Homo sapiens: one gene and its partners. The protein of the gene in region 6 purifies or fractionates together with the protein of the main gene of each other region. This does not show direct contact. Each region holds a gene or a part of one and is shown on either strand. Other genes may lie near its edges. The genes, in order: TNPO1, ECPAS, NT5C3A, ICMT, BZW2, UNC93A and TUBGCP2.

Region 1 (3,500 bases), on a different chromosome or scaffold from region 6:
AACAGATGGCTTAGACCATTTTAGGAAATTCCTGATTGGGTAAAACAGAACATAAACATTTTAGCAATTAAGAGTTAGATATATCTTACAGTCAATAAGTATTCTTTTTTTTTTTTTTTAAACAGTGCCTTTGCTACCCTAGAAGAGGAGGCTTGTACAGAACTTGTTCCTTACCTTGCTTATATACTTGATACCCTGGTCTTTGCATTTAGTAAATACCAGCATAAGAACCTGCTCATTCTTTACGATGCCATAGGAACATTAGCAGATTCAGTAGGACATCATTTAAACAAACCAGTAAGTATCTGTTAAGAACTATTAGGGAAAATAATGTGTAGCATAGTTACAATTAATAGATTAGCATATATTTGGAAATTAAGATGTTTTGGGAGATGTGAATAGTTAGCGTTAGCTACTTTAAGAGTATAGATCTTACAAAGGCAGCAAGTATATCCCCTTTCATGTGGTATTCTTAAAGTAAATACATACTTGGTGTGGAAACTACAGCAGCATTTCACATGAATGCTCTGATACTTTTTAGAATGACTAAAGCAAAGGGATAAAAAAGTTTTTATAATCTGGATATCTGCTTTTACTTAATTCCTAATGTTTTTGAATCTACCACTTCATAAACACTGTAGCTTTAGAGTACCATATCTAGACATCTTTGTTTTTTCAGCAGGTACGGGGAGTATACTGTATAAAACAAATAGAAATTGGGGTAGTAGGTTTAAAAATGCTAAATAGTAATGCAAAAGTGCCTTGTTTCCAGTAGTGTTAGTAGAAGAGGAGGATGGATTTGTCTAATGAGGATTTAAGTGATAGTAGAATTTTAATATAGCTCCACATACCCTGCTGAATAGACTTCTATATGATTGCTATATCCAAAGTCTTAAGAAATTGTTTTATTTTTAAGTTACACTTAAGATTTGGTACAGGGCAGTTTATAGGTTTGCTTTGCTGTTGGTTGTTTGGTTTGGCTTTTGTGGGGGTTTGTTTTCTGAATGTCTTTAGAGTCTGTGCCCCTGTTTACATGATCACTATGTTTAGTCGTTTTATGGATCATTCTTTAGTTTGACACTTAAATGATTTTAAGTTTGTTTTTCTACAAAAGCATCTGTGTAAGTTTACCTGTTGATTTAAAAATGTACTATATAGTAACAGCCATATTACACGTTACAGTTCCATGACTAAAAGGAATTTTTTTGTGTGTGACAAGGTCTCACTCTGTCACCTAGGCTAGAGTGCAGTGGTGTGATCACAGCTCATTGCAACCTCCACCTCCCGGGCTCAAGCGATCCTCCCATTTCAGCCTCCCCTGTAGCTGAGACCACAGGCGTGTACCACCATTCCTGGCCAACTTTTTGTAGAGATAGTTTTGCCATGTTGCCCAGGCTGGCCCAAACTCCTGGGTTCAAGTGATCTGCCTGCCTCAGCCTCTCAAAGTGCTGGAATTACAGGTGTGAGCCACCATGCCCAGCCCCAGAACTAAAAATATTCTGTAACTTAAAGAGAAAAACTTAGGTCTGGGCACAGTGGCTCACACCTGTAATCCCAGCACTTTGGGAGGCTGAGGTGGGCAGATCAAAAGGTCAGGAGATCGACACCATCCTGGCTAACACGGTGAAACCCTGTCTCTTTAAAACTACAAAAAATTAGCCGGGTGTGGTGGGGGGTGCCTGTAGTCCCAGCTACTCGGGAGGCTGAGGCAGGAGAATGGCGTGGACCTGGGAGGCGGAGCTTGCAGTGAGCTGAGATCACGCCGCTGCACTCTAGCCTGGACGACAGAGCAAGACTCCGTCTCAAAAAAAAGAGAAAAACTTAGATCTTCCTTGATTGTGACTTTTTTAAGTAATAGATTTTGATTAGCTGTGTGTTTATTGATAGACTCTTTTTTTCAACAAGGATAAAAGATCAGTAGATCACTAGTTCTAGATCTAAAACTAGAACACGGTCATGTAAGTATAAAGGTAGGCAACAGAAAGGAAAACTTTAAAAGGGACTGTGCAGAGTGAAGAATGACTCTTAAAATGCCTTTTGTAATGATTTTACACAATTGCTCAAAATGGATTTTAATTTTCAAAGACTCAAAATGGTCTTGTTGACATGTGATAGTGGAATTTTATATGTTTTTCATCATTGTAAATAGGAATATATTCAGATGCTAATGCCTCCACTGATCCAGAAATGGAACATGTTAAAGGATGAAGATAAAGATCTCTTCCCTTTACTTGAGGTATGCAGGGCTAGTAATATTTAATCTGTTGCCAAGAACACATGTTCAAATCCAAAATGGGTATATATGATAAGAAAAGTGTTAATAAATTTATATTCTGAAGTAGACGGAGGAAATTATATGATACATACTGTTCTCTAACCTGCTTTACTTAATTGATAATAAATTAGAGTTTTAAGTTCTCTTATGTTATCTACTCTCTATATAGAGTAGATAGCATACTACTCTATATAGTATAGAGTAGATAACATACTGGGAGGATATATATACCGGGATATATATATATATCTTTTCACTCATACATATATGTTGAGTAGTGGGATTTGGTGCCAGTAAGGAGGTACTTATTTTCAAATTTGAAAATGTTTCCATGTGTACTTAACTACTTTTTTTTTTAACACCCCTTTCATTGCAAACTTTTATATGATGTTCTCGTAACTGAACACACTGTGAAATGTAGTCACTTAAACTTAGTTGAATTGACATTGATAGAACCAGTTCAGGCCTTTTCATTCTTGCTCCCTGTTATTTCAAGGTTCACCATCTTCTACCGTGGATTGTTCTTAGCCAAAGAAGTTAAATTTTCTATGACCAAGAGCAATTCTGGGCCCAGCAAAACAAGAAGAATCATTATGGTTCATTTTTTGTATGCAGTCGTCCCTCAGTATCTGCAGGGGATTGTTTCCAGGACTCCCCTTGGATACAGAAATCCAGCGATGCTCAAGTCCCTTATATAAAATGATGTGGTATTTGCATATGGCCTATGCACCTCCTCCCAATATACTTTAAATCATTTTAATTGTTTTTCTAAATACTTTTGATTCAAGATTGGTTGAATCCATAGATACAGAGGGCCAACTGTATATATATTACTTTCCGGCAGGATCTCAGAATGTGCCCAGTAAAGTCCATTCACAACATTGACCAGGATGGGAGCATGAAATGAATCTCTTCAATTTGAGGGAAAAATATGAACACATAATACTCAATCTGTCCTTTAAAGATAATGTTTCTTGTAGAAACGCTTCCTCTGAGTAAACCTGACCTGATTGGCTGGCAAACTAACAACAATGAATGGCTTCCAAAAGAGAGGGTTGGGGTGGGGGGAGGGGAACCTGCTACTGTAGAAACTAGTAGAGCAAGCTCATAAATGATCAGGATCCTGTTGAGCGCAGTTTCAAGCATTCATCATAATCTTCAGTATACCCAGAAAGTTTAGCATGTGTACTTTATTCTTCCTAGTGCCTATCTTCAGTTGCCACAG
Region 2 (3,500 bases), on a different chromosome or scaffold from region 6:
CTTATGGGATGAGTCAAGCAGCTGTTGTGACTCCAGTTTTTTCTTAGTATATTTCTCTTTTCTTCTCTGTTACTAAGTGGAATAAATAATTCCCCAAATACCAGAAACAGTTGGTCCAAATTTGTATTACAAGAGACAACAACATATCAAGAGCTCTCTATAAATTTACATCTGTAGTCTTTTGATCTGCCTATTTAGAAAGGTTCAGAGTTGTGCCTGTGCCTAATAGTTATCTTTGGGAGGAACTAGGAAAGTTATAAGCTGTGGAGGTATTTAATGAAGTAGGTAACATAAAGGTATGTGAAGAGATTGGGCAATGTCGATATGTTGTTTTAGTCATAGGAAGGCATTTGCAGTAAAGGGCTGCTTGGCATTCTGAGGTTCTGATTTCTAAACTTCCTGGAGTCTTGGTAAAGTTACTCTGTTGTGCATTCCCTGTAATGGTTAGTTAGCTATGATTGTGTTTACTGGAAATTAGTTTGCTAAGCAGATCTGTACCTTTAGCAGGACTCTGAAGGTATAGATCCAACCCCTAAAAAAACTGAAGTGTACAAAAAACTATGTTAAACTGGTGAAGAGAAGTAGCTATTTTTTAGTGCCTGCTGGGGGAGTATTACCAAAATTTGGTCTAAGAATGTTATGTCTTAGTTGGATTATTGGGGGGAAATAAAAATTTAAAGAAATAGGAATAGTTAGTGAATACCATTTAGTTATATTCATTAGTAATAGAAAACATGTTAATTGCATTTTCAAAAATAAAGGCCAGCAATTTATAGGAAAAGTCATCTAAGAAGTTGACTCATTAGAGGGGGTTTGGTAGGGTAGGCCCACTGTAGAAGATCAATATTTAGTTTAGGTTTTTTATACTAAACATGGATTGATAAAGAGGAAGTAGGCCCAGAAAGATTCTTCATTCTTGAGTAATCATTATTTTTCTTTTTTAGCAAATTGATGTTTTTCATTTTTTTGTTTGTTTTTAGTGTTGAATCACTGATGAATAATTTTTCTGTTTGTAGTACAATAGTGGTTTTAATATTGAAATCAGAGCAGAAGCAAGCAGTGATTTTTCAACTTCATGTCAAATCCAGTTGGTACACGTTTGACAAGGGCAGTTTTTAATTGAAGATGTGGTCCTGACTTATTTGCCAAGGCTTACCTTTATATTTGTCCTTTTTCAAAAGTGCCTGCAATACCTTGATGTGTCAGTGCTGGGCGAGCTAGTTCCTAGGTTGTGTGAACTGATCAGAAGTGGTGTAGGTCTTGGAACTAAGGTAAGTGTACTTTCCACAAGAGGAAATGTGCATCTTCATTAGTTCTGGCCATAAGGATATAACAGCCATCATGTTTGAAATTCATGTTTTACCACAAAATCTAATATTATACACTAACCATTTTATTTCTGTGGTTGCACTGATAACTGAAAACATGTAACTGGTTCAAGAAATAAAACATCTAACTGTTCCAGTAAGTATTAACTTATTTAGTGGAATCATTTCTGTTCTCTGGTTGCCGTGTACATACCCTCTGGGTTGTCATTCATTAGCAGTTCATGGAAATGCACATCCAGTTATTAGGGCATGGATTGTTTTAGGTGGCAATTGCATTTTTCACAGAGGGGTCAGCAGTGTTTGAATAGAAAAATGTCCTAGTTTTCAAGATCTTTGAAGGATCAGACACCCCCCTACCACCCTTTTAACAACAAATTAATAACTCACATTTTTTCTTATGACAAAATTAACACTTGCTGGTATTTTAAAATTTTAGCATTTATAGATTAGGAGAAAGTTAAAATAAAAATTGTCCAGAATTTTGCCATACAGAGATAACTGCTGTTAATATTTTGAAGTGTTTCCTTCCAGTCTTTTCTGCACATGTATCTTCTGCAGTGTCCTCTTCTAATGGCCGTATGATACTCCACTGTATGGATGTAACATCATTTATTTTACTCCATCAAGGAACATCTGATTTGTTTTCAGTTTTTGAAAAAAATAGTAAAGCACTGTGATGAGTGTCTTCAGGCACACCTGAAGATATTTGGTTAAATTTCTGGAAATGGAAATGTTAGCACAGTGATGGACAAGATGACATATTTTGCTTTTCCAGAAGATTGTACCAGTTTTCTTTCTTTTTCACAATGTCTGAGATCACCCATCTTTCTCTTGGAGGTTTAAAAAAAATCGCTGCATTACTAGTTTAAGAGTTTGCCTTTTTCTATATTGAGTCCTGGAGGGGGTATTAGGCTTCATGTATTTTATATGTTTAAATTTTTGGCACCTAAGCCAATGGTTTGGTAGGTAGAACATTGTGACCATCAGATTTAGACCTTTGCTTTTGTAACCCTGTAGGGTGGCTGTGCCAGTGTCATTGTGTCATTAACTACTCAGTGTCCTCAGGACCTAACACCTTACTCAGGTGAGTTTGTCAAGGGATGTGTGGTGATATTTTTGCACAGCCCTGTCTTGTGTGACAGAGTTTTAAAAAGGAAAAATACTTATCATTCAGACCTGCTTGTGATGCTGTGTGCCTTTTCTCCCCTCAGTCCCCTGACTCCTTCATTTCTTTGTCTGCAGGAGGTGCAGAGTTTATCAAGTTTAGCAGCTTTTCACTGTTCATAAACATTTGATTATTCCTTAGTGGTATAAGGAGGTAAAAGTATCCTCTTTTCCACAGGACTTACCATTGATAGCTGATTTTACATCAGCATTTTTCTCTTCTTAGATTGGCTTCTAGACTGGACTAGTGTTCTTTATATACCTCGTTCTTATTTTGCATCTTTTTCCACGATATTCTAGTTTAATTTTAACTTTATATCATGTAAAAGGAAGCAAATGGATATATAAATATAACATCCAGAAATCTAAACTACTGTGGAGTAAATCAGATGTTAATTACAGGGTTAGGTTTGTTTGGGTTCTGGGAACAGAGTGGAACATTTGGTCAACCAAGTATCAGATTTTTTTCTCTTTATTTCTGGTAGGTAAACTTATGAGTGCTTTGCTGAGTGGCCTGACAGATCGGAACAGTGTGATTCAGAAATCTTGTGCATTTGCTATGGGCCATTTAGTTCGGGTGAGTTAAATTTCTTGCTTAGTTAAATAAAACTCTTTGACAGTTATAAAGAAATACTTAGGATTGTTTCTTTTTCAGACCTCACGGGATAGCAGCACTGAAAAACTCCTGCAGAAGCTCAATGGGTGGTATATGGAGAAAGAAGGTACCTTTCTTTTTCTATTTTATGTCATTTTAAATTTAGATGTTAACAGCCCAGTAAAACAGTACAAATTAGGTCTTACCCTCCATGATTTTATGTGATTTGCTAGAAACATTTGTTTCTTTTCTTTTCTTTTTTTTTGAGATGGTGTCTGGCTTTGTCGCTGAGGTTGGAGTGCAGTGGTGCTATCTCAGCTCACTGCAACCTCAGCCTCCTGGGCTCAAGCGATTCTTGTGTCTCAGCCTCCTGAGTAGCTGGAACTACAGGCACGTGCCACCACGCCTGGTTA
Region 3 (3,500 bases), on a different chromosome or scaffold from region 6:
AACAGTTAACTCTTTACTTTCCCTTTAATCAATTCTAATACTACAAACTAGATGTCTTTAAGCTTTCACTGAATATGAATATAAACCTACAGTTCACAATTTATACCATTTAAAAAGAAATAGGCAGGCATAGCAGTGCATGCCTATAGTCCCAGCTATTTGGGAGGCTGAGGCTTGAGGATTGCTTGAGCCCAGGAGTTCTAGTCCACTCTGGGCAACATAGCGAGACCCTGTCTCTAAAATGAAATTTAAAAAGAGAAAACAATAGTTAAGCTACACCTTGAAAACCCCACTTAGGGGTTAAAACATGGATATATTAACACTGAGAAGGATGGAGTCCCATAGTGGGCCTATCAACTTGGCCTAACTTAATGGATATATATTGACCAACAACAAATACATTTACATGATTAAAATATTTTCAGATTTTAAAATTATGAAGAATGACTTGATATTCTTACAGTTTCATCAAAATCCATAAAATTGAAAAGAAAAGCAGAGTGGCAGGAACTTAGATGTATTCTCGACATCTGGCATGTGTCTTTACTAAGATCTTAAGCCCTCTTCCCTTTTTTACCCTTCCTGGGCCATAGGTTAAAGAATGCTAATGTTGCCTACTAAGGAATGAAACACTTACTAGCTGTCCTCACACTTTTTCTGACAATTTATTGCTTTCCTTTTTAGAAGTAATCACCTTAAAATATAACATCATCATAAAAAAGTAACATCATCATATTTGCCTAATGAGTTGAAAATTTTACGAGGTAATAAACAGTATTAAACAGGCTCTTGGGCCGGGCGCAGTGGCTCACGCCTGTAACCCCAGCACTTTGGGAGGCGGAGATGCGCAGATCACAAGGTCAGGAGATCGAGACCATCCTGGCTAACTCGGTGAAACCCCGTCTCTACTAAAAATACAAAAAATTAGCCGGGCGTGGTGGCGGGCGCCTGAAGTCCTGGCTAGTCAGGAGACTGAGGCAGGAGAATGGCGTGAACCTGGGAGGCGGAGCTTACACCACTGCACTCCAGCCTGGGTGACAGAGCGAGACTCCATCTCAAAAAAAAAAGAAAAAAAAAAGCTTCTTGTATCTTATAACTCATGCATACATATATAATTATGTACTAAAACATACTAATCTTTCCTAGGAATAGTTTTCAAAGAAGTTCGAGAATTTAAAAAGTAGGCTTATGTAAATTTAGACATAGTATACTGCCAGGCATGGTGGCTCACACATATAATCCCAGCACTTTGGGATCGCTTGAGCTCAAGAGTTCAAGACCAGTCTGGGCAACATGGTGAAATCCCATCTTTACAAAAATATACAAAAATTAGCCAGGCATGGTGGTGCATGACTGTAGTCCCAGCTACTTGAGAGGCTGAGGCAAGGGGATCGCTTGAGCCCAGGAGGCAGAGGTTGAACTGAGGAAGAGATTATGTCACTACACTCTAACCTGGGCAACAGAGAGAGACCCTGTCTTTAAAAAAAAAAAAAAGTATACTTAAATCCCTTTTAACTTGATTTATACATTCCTTTCATATGTCTTTCCTAAGTATTTTGCTAAAAAATTTTTAAATGGCCTTGGTTCAAAAATTTTAAGTCTTGACATTTTTAATCTGGAGAAACAAAATACAAATTAGAATTTAAATCTCATAAGGCTCTTACTACCTACACCAAGATCTAATACGTCATTCTAAATTCCTTATCTTACCACTATGTATTTTGTGATAGGTGGCATATTTTGGATATGGTTATATAAGGAATATTCAATCTTATTTTTAAAAAGTACAACTGACTACATAAATAGCAATAATTCAAGTCTGTGAACAATAACAGCAAAAAACATCCAAGAAACTTACTTGAGCATAACGTCAGATTCTGCCACAATTTCTTTAAGTTTAGCTTTTGGTAAAGCTTGCTGAACAAGCAAACCATGTGATTTAGTATACCTGGAGTTTATGACCAAAGGAAAAAAGACTATCAATTAAGACAAACTAAAATTATTATCTTTATTACAAAACATTCTTCCATGTGAGAAAATCTGTTCCTCATATTTGGATTTAAATTTTAGAGATTGAAGTTCATCACTAATGAATGTATACCTCATGTCTCAAAATGTGATATGCATGTTCTTACTGAGTTTCCCAGTCCTCCCAAACCCAGACTTAGCTTAAATATGTTAGTAAGGTAATGAAAGGAAACTAGCTATAAACCTTTCCTAATTCTACACATAAAAACTCAACCCAACCTATGGAAGCATAATCCTTTCTCTGATTGCAGTAAAATGAATTAGAGCAACCCCATTTTTAAAATTTGTTTGTAGTTTGAATTTTCTACATACTGAAGATGCTACTTAGTGAACAAGAGAGAAAATCTTTGTTATGGCAAGTGTCATATACAGATTAGCCTGCTTTATGTAGAAAACACCTATAATCATAGCATCTCAGTATAAAGGGCCCTTAGACTCTCTAACCCATTACAATTATGCAAACAGCCACTAAAAACAGAAAGAAAGAAACGAAAAGAAAAAAAAGCCTAACTCTTCATCTGATACCTAAAAATACCCCTATAATATTCCTAAGTCACCTTCTTCCCTGCCTGGGTCAGCTTCTAACATGTCAGTAAGCTCATTCTCCCAGGGAAGCTTATTCCATTGCCAGAAAACTCTTAATTGCTAGACAGGCTTTTCATTTCTCATGCTGAAATCAATCTTCTTATATCTTCCAAGTCTAGTTCCAGTTCTGCTGCTACCAGTTTGTAGAGTTAAGTCTAATATCTTTTCAACATTTAGTACCACAAATACAGATGAAGTATGCAACTGTTACGTAACGGGACAATAAAGACAAATCATTCCTGGTCTCCTAAGATTTTAAAACAAGTTGTTCCTTCTCAAATCAAAGCATTTTCTATTCCTTGAAATGTTCGTCAAGTGGGAAGGCTCAAATTCCTCTGATCATTCTGGTGGACTACTCTGACTCCTTTTAAGTTTGTCATGATCTATTTTTTTTTTTTTTGGTCACTATTGTCATGGTTTCTCTTAACAGCATTCTTCCAGAATCCGACACAGTGCTTTCAGTGTGATCTGCCTGGAACACTGCATTTTGATTAATGCAACCAAAGGTCGATTTTTGGGTAACCATATCACCTGCTGGCTCTGAGTTCAGACTCAGTTTAAATCCTCATACCTTTTCTTTACACATTAAGCCACGTTTTGTTCATATACTTAAAAAAAAATTCTTGTTTTTAATTTGAGACTTAAATGCAGGACTTTTAATTTATTCCTACTGGACTTCACCTTAAATAAACAAAACAAAAGGATTCCTAAACTGTTAGAGAGATTAGATAATTAGAGCTCATTTTGTTATTCAATGCTCTAACTTGCATAATTTATTAATCTGTTTGTTTGCAATACAGGTAAAAAATAAGCCATCAGTTGTAACTGCAGTGTTGTTTTATTATTTTTTTTTAATCCTCCTACTGCCTAATATACACTTACCATTC
Region 4 (3,500 bases), on a different chromosome or scaffold from region 6:
CTCTTGTTGCCCAGGCTGGAGTGCAATCATGTGATCTCAGCTCACTGCAACCTCTGCCTCCCGGGTTCAAGCGATTCTCCTGCCTCAGCCTCCTGAGTAGCTGGGATTACAGGCATGCGCCACCATACCCGGCTAATTTTGTATTTTTAGTAGAGACGGGGTTTCTCCATGTTGGTCAGGCTGTTCTCGAACTCCCAACCTCAGGTGATCTGCCTGCCTTGGCCTCCCAAAGCGTTGGGATTACAGACATGAGCCACCATGCCCAGCCCCTGGCTAATTTTTGTATTTTTGTAGAGACGGGGTTTTTCCATGTTGCCTAGGCTGGCCTCGAACTCCTGCGGTTGAGTGATCTACCCGCCTCGGCCTCTCAAAGTGCTGGGATTACAGGCGTGAGCCACCACATGTATTTCTTTTTCTTTCTTTTTTTTTTTTGAGACAGAGTCTCACTTTGTCGCCCAGGCTGGAGTGCAGTGGTGCGATCTTGGCTCACTGCAACCTCCACCTCCCGGGTTCAAGTGAGTCTCCTGCCTCAGCCCCCGCGAGTAGCTGGGATTACAGTTGTGCACTACCTCGCCCAGCTAATTTTTTGTATTTTTAGTAGGTTTAGTAGGGGTTTCACTGTGTTGGCCAGGCGGTTCTCAAACTCCTGACCTCAGATGATCCACCCGCTTCAGCCTCCCAAAGTGCTGGGATTACAGGCGTGAGCCACTGCATCCAACCCGCATATTTCTTTTTTAAAATTACTATTTGGCTAGGCACAGTGGCTTTGGGAGACCAGAGCAGGAGGATTGCTTGAGGCCAGGAATTAGAAACCAGCTTGGCTGGCCGGGCATGGTGGCTCATGCCTGTAATCCCAGCACTTTGGGAGGCTGAGGCAGGCAGATCATGAGGTCAGGAGATCAAGACCATCCTGGCTAACACAGTGAAGCCTCATCTCTACTAAAAATACAAACAATTAGCCTGGTGTGGTGGCACGCATCTGTAGTCCCAGCTACTTGGGAGGCTGAGGCAGGAGAATGGCGTGAACCCGGGAGGCGGAGCTTGCAGTGAGCCGAGATCGCGCCACCGTACTCCAGCCTGGGCGACAGAGCGAGACTCCATCTCAAAAAAAAAAAAGAAAAAGAAACCAGCTTGGCCAACATAGTGAGAACCCTTCTCTCCAGAGGAAAAAACTAAAAATATATCTGGAAGTTGTAGTGTGCACCTGTAGTCCCAGCTACTCAGGAGGCTGAGGCAGGAGGATCGCTTTGATTGCTGCTGTACTCCAGTCTGGGCAACAGAGTGAGACCCTGTCTTAAAAACAGAAAACAAAATTATTTATTTGTGTATTAAAGATGAGATCTCGCTGTGTTGCCCAAGCTAGTCTCAAACTCCTGGGTTCCAGCAGACCTTCTGCTTTTGTCTCCTGAGTAGCTGGGACTATAAGTGTGCACCACCATGCCCAGCTAACTTTTTGTTTTTTGTAGAGATGGGGTCTTAGTGTTGCCCAGGCAGATTTTGAACTCCTGGGCTCAAGCAGTCCTCTCACTGCAGCCTCTCAAAATGCTGGGATTACAGGCATGATCCACCATGCCCAACCCAAAGCCTTATTTCTTTTTTTTTTCTTTTTGAGACAGAGTCTCGCTCTGTCGCCCAGGCTGGAGTGCAGTGGCGCAATCTCGGCTCACTGCAAGCTCCGCCTCCTGGGTTCACGCCATTCTCCTGCCTCAGCCTCCTGAGTAGCTGGGACTACAGGCGCCCGCCACCATGCCTGGCTAAATTTTTTGTATTTTTAGTAGAGACGGGGTTTCACTGTGTTAGCCAGGATGATCTCAATCTCCTGACCTCATGATCCACTTGCCTCAGTCTCCCAAAGTGCTGGGATTACAGGCGTGAGCCATCGCGCCTGGCCGCCTTATTTCTTGAAACTGTTTCTTGATTCTTTACTCTTGGTCCTAGAAAAACTTGGCCAAAGAATGTGAATAGATCTTGGAAAATTCACGAAGTGTTTGGGAAAAGTCTCCAAGTCTTTGGGCAAATCCAGAGATCTCTCAGGCATCCCATCAGCAATGCATGGTCCTTGGTGACTCTGGTGACCCCTAACGGTATAGGTGGGGCAAATGATCACATAGCATTTACAATTTTTGTTTCTGAAACATGTAAAACCGCCACATTAACAATCACCTTCCCTGGGAACAAATTAGTTATGACTGAATAATGTAATTTGCCATAAATGCTTGCTTCCTGTATATGTGTGTGCACTAGAACCAAAGGGTTTTCCATACCTTTTTGCCCATAGATTTTTTTTACATTGTGCTCCAGCACTTGTGTGTGTATGAAAGGAACATGTCTTTCCTGATATAATACTTACACTTACTGTTTACAAAATCCTGTTTTCTATCTTATTATTTCAATACTGTTCATAATGTACTAAATGATTTCATGGCTTAGTAACAGGCTGCAGCCTGCTATAGAGAACTCCCACTGTAGGGTATCCCCAGCAAGCTATGCCAGATGTGAGGGTACAGGCCCCGGAGTCACTGACTGGGCCAGTCCTGATTCTGACATTCACTGCTTGGCCTCCTTCTCCTCTCATGTTAAAGTGGGGGCAGCTAGACATAGTGGCACATGCCTGTAGTTCCCCCTACTCTGGAAGCTGAGGCAGGAGGATGGCTTGAGGCCAAGAGTTCAAGTCCAGCCTGGGCAATATAGTGAGACCCTGTCTTTAAAAAATAATAAAATTTTAAAAAAAACAAAGTGGGGATAGTAGCGTGCCCTCAAAGGTTTGCCATGAGAGTTGAACAGGGTAATGATTGTAAAGGGCTTAGCATGGCGCTGGGAACATAGTAAGTGCTCAATAAGAGAAGGTGTGAGAGGTCAGGACATGAGCCTGGCTCTCCGGGTGGCTGTATTGGAGCCTAAAATATATATTCAGAAAACATACAGAAAATGTATGTTGGGGAAGATGCACATCCACAGGGGACCAGTGGGCAGGTGTAGGTGAGTGGTTCCCTGAGGAGCTGGGGAATGCTTTTGGCCTTGAAGGACTGTTTGGCTGGAGATCAGTGGGAAGGATGTTCTTTGTTTTTTTTGAGAGGGAGTTTCGCTCTGTCGCCCAGGCTGGTATGCAGTGGCGATCTCAGCTCACTGCAACCTCTGCCTCCTGGGTTCAAGCAATTCTCCTGCCTCAGCCTCCCAAGTAGCTGGGATTACAGGCTCCCACCACTACGCCCAGCTAATTTTTCTATTTTTGGTAGAGACGGGGATTCGCCATGTTGGCCAAGCTTGTCTCAAGCTCCTGACCTCAGGTGATCTGCCCTCCTTGGCCTCCCAAAGTACTGCAATTAACAGACATGAGCCACCGTACCTGGCCAGGATGTTCTTAAAGGTGGAAGAAAGGGCCAGGAGTTCGAGACCAGCTTGGGCAACATTGTGAAACCCCATCTCTACAAAAAATACAAAAATTAGCTGGGTGTGGTGGCATGTGCCCTTAGTCCCAGCTACTTGGGAGGCTGAGGTGG
Region 5 (3,500 bases), on a different chromosome or scaffold from region 6:
AAATTGAGAAATATTTATTTTTTCTCATCAAGTTAACAAATTTATTCCTTAAACGTGTGTTGAATCGATACTATAGGGCAGGTCTTTCATTAAATGCTGGAAATGAGATGAACAAAATATAGTCCCTGACTTCCTGAATTTCAGGATGTAGAAGAAAACAAAGAATTACACTCACCATGTCAATTGCTGAAATAAGCCTCACACAGAGGGTGTCAGAAGGGATAGGACCACAGAGGGAGGGCACCTAACTTGTTAAAGGTAATTTGGAGGGGGAGAAGTGAAGGCTCTCAAGGTACATGTATCTCACCAGACATTATGAAGAAGTTGGCCAGATAGAAGGGGAAAACATATATTCCAGTCTCTATGTGCCATCATACAATGTCTTCCTTTCTTACTGTCTTTTACTGTTATTCTATATTCCTAATAGGCATTTATGAAATATCCCACCAAAAATGGTTTCTCAGTTTTAATTAACTCTTTTCCCTACTTTATCCTTAGTGAGGGAAAAAATTGTCTGAATTCTTTGTCCCTCAAGGAGTTCCTTCCTTTTCAGACCTTTCCTTTCACTAAATAGAAGTTTAATTTCTTCTTAAACTCTTCGATGTTCATACTTTGCCTCATATGGTGCTCTGTGTAGATACTTCAGTAGCTTTTAATTAATAATTCTCTGGTACTAGAAGTTTGATCTTTCAGCAAGTAGTTGTTACTACCCTGGGTTCTTCTAAGAACTCCACATTGCGCCGTTAATATGTAGACTTATTTTAAATTCTCCTTCCTATTCTTAACATTAAATATTCTCAATTAATGGTAACTTAAGAATATCAAGGCACAAGATTTGCAATAAACAATGCATTTGATAGGTTTTACCTATCATTTAGTGTGCTTTTCACAAGCACTGACATTGACAAGCATTTTAGTAGTTGCATGGTCTCCTTCAGCCTCTGTGAGGCAATAAAACACAGGAATGTGCTCTCAACCTTCAAAAGGAAAGCTCAGACAAATAGTATCACTAAACTGCAGTCTACATCAGCTTTCCAACCTGTACTTTGTATCATCCTCAATTCATTAAGGTGTGGAGAAAAAAAACAATTCTCCTTTCCATGTTTGTCACAGTTTAAAATTATATTGTTTGTGCAGAACATTAATAATGATAGTTTAATAGTGCATGAATATAATTTATAAACTCAAAAATATACATATGTTGGGTGTATATGCTCAAAATTATCCTACAGGCAGGAAGACATGATCCAAACAGTTTGATAATTACTGATCTAATCATAAGCATCTTAAAGATAATTTACAAGTTATATAAAAGGGTCTTTTAAAATCCCTGTTAATGTTCTTTAAAAGTCTCTGCAAGGCAGTCTTACACAATAACAGGTCACTTCCTCGGGACACAACTGCCTGCTCCTCAGCTCTATGACAATTAGGCTCTGATGGCTGGTAGAAATTTCTTTTATCTCAGTGGAGAGCTGGAAACAAAGAGCTAAAATAACTAGAAGCTAAGAATAAGTCTACAGGACCCCTGATTGTAGCTCTTACATCCAGGCTCTATAAGTAAATCCAGACTTCTTGCTTCCTTTGCAAAATGTAATGTTTTTAGTGATGATAATAAACATGTTTTTTTAAAAAACCTTTTATTTTCATAAACAAATCATGTTCATTTTAGTCAGCTCAGCCTCTTCAATTTAATTCAAGAACATTTTCCAAGAGCCAATAATTCTTTAAAAATAAAAAAAGCCAATGTTTTTGTTATGAAACTACCAGTGATGTTTTAAATGAAAACAATATTAAATTGTTTCTGTCATTTTCATAAGTTGAAATTATATTTTAACTGAAAAGATATCATTAAAGTAATTTATTAACATTATATGGCTTTATCAGTATTTGTAATGAATTGAGCACATCTCGGGGACAATAATAAATGCTTTGTACCTGTTTTCTGTCTCGTTTCCCACTACAGATTCCCAAACAACAACCCATTAGAACATTGGAACATTAGAAGAATGTTAGAACAACCCATTAGAACATTGGGAGACTATGTACACTTATTTTTATATTCTCCTTCCTATTCTTAACATTAAATACTCTCAATTAATGTTATGTTGAGAATATCAAGGCACATTTGTGGAATTTAGAGTTTTAGACAAAAGATAGTTAACATTTTTTGTTGTTTTTAGAAACCTGTAGGAAATTAGCTAATATGTCTATTTTGTCTTAATGTAGTAGAGGAAAAATATTACTCTTGTAATTTGGGATATACTGTGGGAAAATAAGTCGTGATTTAGTGATGGAGAAAGTGTAGAACTTCAGTTTAGGTGTGTATTACTCCCACAACATAGCCCAGAAGTTCCTCTTTATATCTAATTGCTAACATCATTATTGCATACTATCTACATTTTTTTCCTTTGTCATTTTTCTCCTAAAAAAAGAAAATCCCAATCTCCTTAAAAGACACTGGTCATTTGAGGTTACTCTTTAATCAAGATATGGTTGAACTTGGCAGGACCCAAAATGTTCTAAAATGCTGGAATTGCTGGTTCATTTGCAAAATTACAAAACAATTCTATTTCCTACCAGCAAATTAGCACTGTGAGAGATTTCCAAGTCCTAGTAGTGAGCTATAGGCTTGCATTATATCATGCCTAAGAAGATGTATATCATCATCATCAGTACTTAAGCCTTTAGTAAGCTATCAAAATATGGCACTATGCTACATGAAAATCAACTTGGTTCCTCTCTTCTGATAAGTAACAGAATGCTTTATATTTAAAATGATTGCTTTCTATTAAACTGTAATACATGAAGTTGTTTTGAAACATGACATTTGTATAGTAACTTTGAAATCTTTGATTTAAAATTGCAGCTGATGTTCTGAGCGAAGAAGCAATACTGAAATGGTATAAGGAAGCACATGTTGCTAAAGGCAAAAGTGTTTTTCTTGACCAGATGAAGAAATTTGTTGAGTGGTTACAAAATGCAGAAGAAGGTATGATTCTGTTTACAAACATTGATGACCTTTAAACACTGTCTCATTATATGTCAAAATATTTACCTCTTCCACAGATTTTACTTGATTTTCTAAAACTAAAATTCTAGAGTTATCTTTCGTATCAAACATTTTGCCAACATCTTAGCTTTCCTTTCTGAAATCACGGCAATAAAAATCTCTACATGTAAAAACAAAGAAAGAAATGAAATGCTTAAATTATCCACTCTGATGGAGGACAATAAGGAAGAAATGATTAGTAGATGTGAAAGGAGAAAAATACATTTAGCTTAATCACGCATTATGGAATTCTATAGATTTTTATGACACCTTTACCAATTAACTGGCAATTTTAAATAATGGAAATATAAAGTGGAAGGATAATAATGAGTAAGAGTGAATTCAGGCCAGGTGTGGTGGCTCACACCTGTAATCCCAGCACTTTGGGAAGCAGAGGTGGGTGGATCACCTGAGGTCAGGAGTTTGAGAGCAGGCTGGCCAACATAGTGAA
Region 6 (3,500 bases):
AGACACACTAACTGCTTTATTCCGAATTCACCTGCACTTTTCTCCCACCAGCTTCAGAGGAGGCTCCCAGGGCAGCAAGCCTGTGGCTGGCGGTTCCTGGGAGCTGTGGCGGCCTCCAGCCTGGGGGACACTGAGGACCTGCTGGTGCCTCATCCCGCTGTGTCCATCCTGTGCTCTGACAGGGCTGGCTTTGTTCCCACAGAGCAGCCTGTACAGCGAGGAGGGCCTGGGTGTCACAGCGCTCAGCACCCTCTATGGAGGCATGCTCCTGTCCTCCATGTTCCTCCCACCGCTCCTCATCGAGAGGCTGGGCTGCAAGGGGACCATCATCCTCTCCATGTGTGGCTACGTGGCCTTCTCCGTGGGCAACTTCTTCGCCAGCTGGTACGCAGCCACCACCCCCTGCCCACCCCACCCCGGCCGTTCCCCACGCTAGGGACGTTCACTCTGCACATGAGTTGCATTTGCACCTGATTACTGTTCACTGCAGGCATTTTAAAATGAGCTCTCCTGCCCCTGCACCCCCGCCTCGCTTTGGTGACAGACGGTGCTGGGCTTCCTTCCTGTTTTCCCACCAAGGCTCCTCTGTGCCCCCCACTGCTTCTGTCTCCTCCTCCCGATCCCCGATGCTGGCCTCTCCCTGGGATCCGTCCTGGTCCTCAGCTCCCCTGGCTGGGCGAGGGTTCCAGTAACACAGGGGACTCTAACTGCAATGCAGATGGTGAGTCTCGTGGGCACCTAGGCAGATGTCACCAATGGACCGAAAGCTGCACCTCGCCCACCATTAGGAGGTGGGTATGGCCAGGGCAGGTCACAGGGATGGGAGGCCACCCTGCTCCCTGGTGAGATGGACCACAGAGACTGAGCTCTGAGGGCTTTGGCCTGCACCCCAGGCCCCGGGAACACAGCCATGGAGCATCTCTTCCAGGGACCCTGGTTGTGCCAGGACATGCTGCTGATGATGGCTGCAAGTCCTTCTTCCCGGTAGCTGCAGAGTCTTACATGGCATGCCGCCGCTGAGGCCCGAGCCGGTCACTAGGTCTTTTTAACCGGGGCTGTCCCTCGGCCTCCCTCGTGCTCCTCGCCTCCCTCGTGCTCCTCGCCTCCCTCGTGATCCTCGGCCTCCCTCGTGCTCCTCGCCTCCCTCGTGCTCCTCGCCTCCCTCGTGAACCTCGCCTCCCTCGTGATCCTCGCCTGCCTCGTGCTCCTCGCCTGCCTCGTGCTCCTCGCCTCCCTCGTGCTCCTCGCCTCCCTCGTGATCCTCGCCTGCCTCGTGCTCCTCGCCTCCCTCGTGCTCCTCGCCTCCCTCGTGCTCCTCGCCTGCCTCGTGCTCCTCGCCTCCCTCGTGATCCTCGCCTGCCTCGTGCTCCTCGCCTGCCTCGTGCTCCTCGCCTCCCTCGTGCTCCTCGCCTTCCTCGTGCTCCTCGCCTCCCTCGTGCTCCTCACCTTGTTGTTTGCAATCGCATCCGATACAAGGAGCCTCACTGGCTTCAATTTCACTTTTGCAAATCAGTCCAAGCTAGGAAATGCACTGATATTGCTCATTTTTCTGAGTGTAATGGTGAATCCATCCATCCAACCAGCAACACTCATCACCACGCTTGCAATGGGCCAGGCGGTGGTTCCTTCTCCCAGATTGACTAAAGAACTGCAGGGACATGGGTGCAATGGGCTTGCGTCTCCTGTTACAGGCTATGGGTCTGCATTTTACCCACAGGTACACTTTGATCCCCACCTCCATACTGCTGGGACTCGGGGCCGCCCCGCTGTGGTCTGCACAGTGCACATACCTCACGATCACGGGAAACACACATGCAGAGAAGGCGGGAAAGCGTGGCAAAGACATGGTGAACCAGTATTTTGGCATCTTCTTCCTCATATTCCAGTCATCCGGTGTGTGGGGCAACTTGATCTCATCGCTGGTATTTGGCCAGACTCCCAGCCAAGGTAAAAGGAAAAGGGGCAAGCAATTGTCTCCAAGTGGAGCAGGGGTTTCAGTGATGGGGGAGAGGGTTCCTGATTTCAGTTGCACACCTGCCTTGATTCTGTAACTTGAGCAGGTGAGTCAGGCCCCACAGGTGAGATTCTCAACCTGCCTGTGCTTCAGAGTTGCCTGTTACCTGCTGTCTTCTGGACAGTCGGGTGGGACTGAAGAAGATCTGCGTCTTCCACAGGTGCCTCCGCAGGGGCAGGGGAGCCCTTGGGAGAGGGCGCCATGGGAAACTGAGGGCCACGCCAGTAGAATTTGTGTTCATGGAGTCTCAACTGCACAACTGTCCTTTTTAGACTAAGGATGGGGTTGCCTGATTTCTTTTCCCTGTGACTTGATACAATGACCAGATTTTCAAATGTTTTATGACAGGCCCCTTATCCCATGACAGATGTGGACATTGGATGGGCTGATGCCCTGGCTCCTCTGTCTCTACCCGACCTTGCCCTGGTATAAATATAAAGTGCATATCTCATTTGTGCCCATGACCTTAGTGCCCACGTTGAGGCTTTAAGCACAGGGCAGAGGACATACATCTCTTTCATGCTTACAGGAAAACTTTCCCAACGGGGTAAAAACCAATCCAGCCCTCCTGACTAGTATCACAACTATTTCTATCACTTCATCAAGGTTCTCCATCTTGCTATCCCATAAAAATCCCACGCTTGGTAAACTCTGTAGCCAAAACCCCTCTCCCTTTTTCTCATGCGATGTCATGCCTGCTAAGTGCATTTGAAGAAGGGAAGCCGTGAAGGTGATGCATAGCAATTTTTACTCATTATTGCTGTTGGTGTCAGCAACAATGAAACAGAAACTGGGGTTACAGCTCAGTCTGCATATCACGGCCAGTGAAGTGGAGGAACAGGCATTTCTTTCGAAGACCTTTCTGCAGGTGAGTTAGTTCTCCAAGTCAGCACAGGACACAGAATCTGGGGCTGGAGGGATTTGGAGGGCGTCGTGTGCTTCTCCACCTTCTTGTACCTTCTCTTATCAGCTGCACATCTCACCCACCTAGAAGATTTTGTGAAGCTGTCTGTTATATAATTTGTGTTATTAAAATAATAAAAACACTGAATATTCTTTCTCCCACCACATCTTTCTCCTTTCCCCAGAGATTCTGACAGGACTTCTGACTGAGAGTCATTGCTAATTCAAATTGTATTTTTCTAAGAGATCACAGAACTAACGTTAGTTTTCAAAAACAGAAAAGTTATGAAATCACCTGCCCAAAGTCATTGAGTTGGTAACAGATGAATCTGAAAGAGAATCCAGCATTCCTGGCACCCAATCTCATGTACTTTTTTCTTTTTGACTAATTTTGAAAACTTGAAAAATTTTAATTATGTCAGAAAAGCAGTAAAACAAGTAACCAGCACTTTTCCAAGTTCATTCTTCCCTGAATCTTTGCAGAACACGAATAGGATTTTCCACCTCCCAAAGTGTCTTAAATCGAGTCTAGGGACATGTGCCTAGACTCGATCTAAATCTATTTTGAGACACTGGGTCTTTC
Region 7 (3,369 bases), on a different chromosome or scaffold from region 6:
ACTGGCCTGTGCCTGAGCTCATGCAGGTGACCCTGTTATTATAGAACAATGGCCAGCTGGCAATCACACTTCCCTTCCTTGACCTCATGGTGCAAGTTACTCAACAGCAAAGTGCAAAGGCGGCACGCTGGCCACATCAGAGGCACAGCAAGGCCCCTGCCGACGCTGAGCTACCAGGGATTTATTCCTAAAAAGACAGGACCAGCTTGGGCCAGAACAGGCTCCTCCCGCGCTGAGGAAGTTCCACCCAATCCCACAGAACACAGCTCTCCTCTTCAGCAGGTGCCGGGGGGTCTGGGAGCCTGAACCCCACAGCCCTGGAGGCTTCCCTCCCCTCCTCCTATCACCACCTGCAAACCCCACTTCTCAAGGCCCAGGGCTTCCCAGACCCCAGGACACAAGATCAGGGGTTTCTGGGCCTCGGGGCCAGGCAGGAAAGCTAGCAGGCTCCTCTGCTCACCAGTCCGGCATTTGCACAACACTGAGACTGACAGCTTGGGTTGCTGATAAATGTGTTTACTCACAGGCCAGACCTGCACAGCCTGCAGACAAGGAGGAAGCGGTTTGTGGCTGGAGAGTTGGACACCCCCACCCCCACTCGGCGGTGCTCTCAGTGAGGCAGCCCCGGGTGAGAGCTGCCCACAACCCTTGTTCCCCGCAGGATCCTGTTCTAGCTATCCTTTCTCCCAACCTCGCCTCCAGGGCCCTTCCTCACTGCCCAAGGGGGCCGAGGTGCTGAGAGCTGAAGGTGACAACAATACACATGCAGGTCAGCAGGAAGGGGCAGCTTGGCCAGAATGTAACCAGAGCAGACCAACCTGGCCGGGCAGCCCTGAGGCTCCCAGGGCCCTGTCACACTGGGGATGGCGGTGCTGCCCACTGTAGCCCTGGAGGTGGGAAGACAGGGCAGATGATCGCCCGAGGGGGATTGGGTGTCAGTCTGCTGAGTAAGTTCTACGTAACAAGGCGGTACCGGATAGGGCGGGGTGGGGTTTCCAGCCAGCAGCAGAGCCTGCCCCTCGACCCACTCCCACGGAGGGGGAGGTGTGGGCTCCCAGGGTGCCTGAGGGCCCTGTCTGTGGCCTCCTGCCCTGGACCAGTTGGAGCAGCAGCAGGAGGAGGGTCGTGGAGGCGGGTGAGTCCTCAGGAGAAGGAACGGGGCTGCCTCTGGGGCCAAAGCAAACCCGACACCCGATGCCCGGTGGGTTTCCACAACTCCCTGACCGTTTCCAGAGGCTTGTCCCGGTTCCGACAGACCTCAGGAAGCCCGGCCCCAGCTCACCCGGAAAGATGTGGACACCAGGCCTGGATCTTACCCCACATGCATCTTTGCTTGCTCCTGGCTTAAACACCATGTATTTCCACTTTGAGGCCAAAAACACCCAAAAAGGTGATAGTGTAATTTCAAAAAGCAAACAGATTAGCAAATCCAGGGAGACATCCACCCTGCCTGGGCAGCTTCTATAAAACGAAACCCAGCGCCTTGAGAAACAAAGTGAGCTGAGTCAATCATTCCTGCTTTATATTTAAACTGCAAAGACAGAACACAGAGCATTCGATTTGAAAATTCTGGACCCATTTGCACCAGTCCCTGCTGACCCCACACCCTTCCTTCCTGTCACAGCCAGGGCTCACTGTGCGGTGACTGCGACCCTGGGTGCAGGAGCCGGGGGCCCCCGCAGGACAGGCACTTGGGGGGTGGCCTTCTGGCTCCTCTCTGCAGACAGGCGCTCCAGGCGCTCCGTGTAGAAACCATTGAAGTCAAGCCTGTGAGGAAGGACAGTGGAGCTGGGGTGCACACCCCTTCTGCGGGTGCATGCTGGGCAGCAGGGGTGTGGAAGGACGGTGCAGCTAGGGTGCACACCCCTTCTGCGGGTGCGTGCTGGGCAGCAGGGGTGAGGAAGGACAGTGGAGCTGGGGCACACACTCCTTCTGCGGGTCCGTCCTGAGCAGCCCTGCTCCTACCATGGGGAAGTGTTCAGCTACAGAGACCATAAGAGGCCCTGCAGGGGTGAGGGTGAGGCACGCTCCTAACTAATGTTTCCACAGGAAGGTTTTCAGTCCTGTTCAGTCCTGCTCAAAGGCACAAACACAGGTTTCTTCTCTCCTGGCCCCAGAAAGTTGGGGCTCCCATCACCCCAACAGGGCCTAGCAATGGGGCCTGAGGTGTCAGGGGCTTGGAGAACCAAGCAGTGGTTCTCAATGCAGGGTGGCCTCAGAAATCCCTGCTCAGAAAATCAGAACATTTGTGGGGGGCACAGGGCACAGGGTGGTCCAAAAGCACAAATAGGCACCTTCCCAAGGACAGCACCCCCAAGGGCACCACCCCTTCCAGGCTGGCAGTTTGGCCACCTGGCCCTTTCCCCCAGGCTAGGTGTTAGTGCAGCATGAGGGAAGCTGACCCAGGCCTGATCAGCCCCACAGGACACACACAGCCGCAGGGTGCCAATGGGGCAGCCCAGTTGCACAGAATGTCACACCCCAGGGAGAGCTGGGCTAGCCTGACTTCAGGGAGTGGCATATGACCAGCACTAGCACCAGGACACAGACCTGCCCCACCTTCTGAAGGAGGCTACACCAGGTGGACCAGGGGAGGGTGCAGGGGAGATGGGGCCTGGATGCAGGGACAGGTGCTGAGCTGGGGTGGCGCTGGGCTGGGGCAGATGCTGGGCTGAGCTGAGGAAGGGCTGAGCCGGGGCAGGCGCTGGGCTGAGCTGGGGGAAGGCTGAGCCGGGGCAGCACTGGGCCAGGGCGGTGCTGGGCAGGGGCAGGCGCTGGGCTGAGCTGGGGGAAGGCTGAGCCGGGACAGCACTGGGCCAGGGCGGTGTTGGGCAGGGGCAGGTGCTGGACTGAGCTGAGGAAGGGCTGAGCCAGGGCGGTGCTGGGCAGGGGCAGGTGCTGGGCTGAGCTGGGGGAAGGCTGAGCCGGGGCAGCACTGGGCCAGGGCAGTGCTGGGCAGGGGCAGGTGCTGGGCTGAGCTGGGGGACGGCTGAGCAGGGACAGCACTGGGCCAGGGCGGTGTTGGGCAGGGGCAGGTGCTGGACTGAGCTGAGGAAGGGCTGAGCCAGGGCGGTGCTGGGCAGGGGCAGGCGCTGGACTGAGCTGAGGAAGGGCTGAGCCGGGGTGGCGCCCACCCACCTGGAGATGACGCTGGCCATGCCGTGCTCACAGTCACTGGTGCTATAGATGCTCAGCCGGGCCAGGAGGTCCAGCAGGTGGGCTGAGAAGTTCTTGTCAAACTTGTTGATGGTGGCCTCGAAGCCGGACACCAGCTGCACAGTGTCTGCGTGCTCAGCCAGGTGCTGGAAAGAAAGCCGGGGTGCGTGAGCCATGCCCACCCCCACCGTGGGCCTTCTTGGCTCCACACTG

The links.
Region 1: the proteins of UNC93A (region 6) and TNPO1 purify together in Homo sapiens (affinity purification with mass spectrometry; one large-scale study listed by BioGRID and IntAct). This does not show direct contact.
Region 2: the proteins of UNC93A (region 6) and ECPAS purify together in Homo sapiens (affinity purification with mass spectrometry; one large-scale study listed by BioGRID and IntAct). This does not show direct contact.
Region 3: the proteins of UNC93A (region 6) and NT5C3A purify together in Homo sapiens (affinity purification with mass spectrometry; one large-scale study listed by BioGRID and IntAct). This does not show direct contact.
Region 4: the proteins of UNC93A (region 6) and ICMT purify together in Homo sapiens (affinity purification with mass spectrometry; one large-scale study listed by BioGRID and IntAct). This does not show direct contact.
Region 5: the proteins of UNC93A (region 6) and BZW2 purify together in Homo sapiens (affinity purification with mass spectrometry; one large-scale study listed by BioGRID and IntAct). This does not show direct contact.
Region 7: the proteins of UNC93A (region 6) and TUBGCP2 purify together in Homo sapiens (affinity purification with mass spectrometry; one large-scale study listed by BioGRID and IntAct). This does not show direct contact.

The regions. Positions count from the first base shown.
Region 1 is NC_000005.10:72,889,661-72,893,160, forward strand, and holds part of TNPO1 (transportin-1), read left to right. Parts: intron 1-125; coding exon 126-297; intron 298-2,149; coding exon 2,150-2,236; intron 2,237-3,478; coding exon 3,479-3,500. UniProt on the Homo sapiens protein: Functions in nuclear protein import as nuclear transport receptor. Serves as receptor for nuclear localization signals (NLS) in cargo substrates.
Region 2 is NC_000009.12:111,372,884-111,376,383, reverse strand, and holds part of ECPAS (proteasome adapter and scaffold protein ECM29), read left to right. Parts: intron 1-1,181; coding exon 1,182-1,271; intron 1,272-2,345; coding exon 2,346-2,412; intron 2,413-2,977; coding exon 2,978-3,069; intron 3,070-3,147; coding exon 3,148-3,214; intron 3,215-3,500. UniProt on the Homo sapiens protein: Adapter/scaffolding protein that binds to the 26S proteasome, motor proteins and other compartment specific proteins. May couple the proteasome to different compartments including endosome, endoplasmic reticulum and centrosome.
Region 3 is NC_000007.14:33,017,777-33,021,276, forward strand, and holds part of NT5C3A (cytosolic 5'-nucleotidase 3A), read right to left. Parts: coding exon 3,496-3,500; intron 1,949-3,495; coding exon 1,859-1,948; intron 1-1,858. UniProt on the Homo sapiens protein: Nucleotidase which shows specific activity towards cytidine monophosphate (CMP) and 7-methylguanosine monophosphate (m(7)GMP). CMP seems to be the preferred substrate.
Region 4 is NC_000001.11:6,225,965-6,229,464, reverse strand, and holds part of ICMT (protein-S-isoprenylcysteine O-methyltransferase), read left to right. Parts: intron 1-3,500. UniProt on the Homo sapiens protein: Catalyzes the post-translational methylation of isoprenylated C-terminal cysteine residues.
Region 5 is NC_000007.14:16,701,681-16,705,180, forward strand, and holds part of BZW2 (eIF5-mimic protein 1), read left to right. Parts: intron 1-2,866; coding exon 2,867-2,989; intron 2,990-3,500. UniProt on the Homo sapiens protein: Translation initiation regulator which represses non-AUG initiated translation and repeat-associated non-AUG (RAN) initiated translation by acting as a competitive inhibitor of eukaryotic translation initiation factor 5 (EIF5) function.
Region 6 is NC_000006.12:167,294,315-167,297,814, forward strand, and holds part of UNC93A (protein unc-93 homolog A), read left to right. Parts: intron 1-202; coding exon 203-384; intron 385-1,717; coding exon 1,718-1,947; intron 1,948-3,500.
Region 7 is NC_000010.11:133,278,135-133,281,503, forward strand, and holds the end of TUBGCP2 (gamma-tubulin complex component 2), read right to left. Parts: intron 3,303-3,369; coding exon 3,139-3,302; intron 1,768-3,138; coding exon 1,632-1,767; 3' UTR 501-1,631; downstream 1-500. UniProt on the Homo sapiens protein: Component of the gamma-tubulin ring complex (gTuRC) which mediates microtubule nucleation.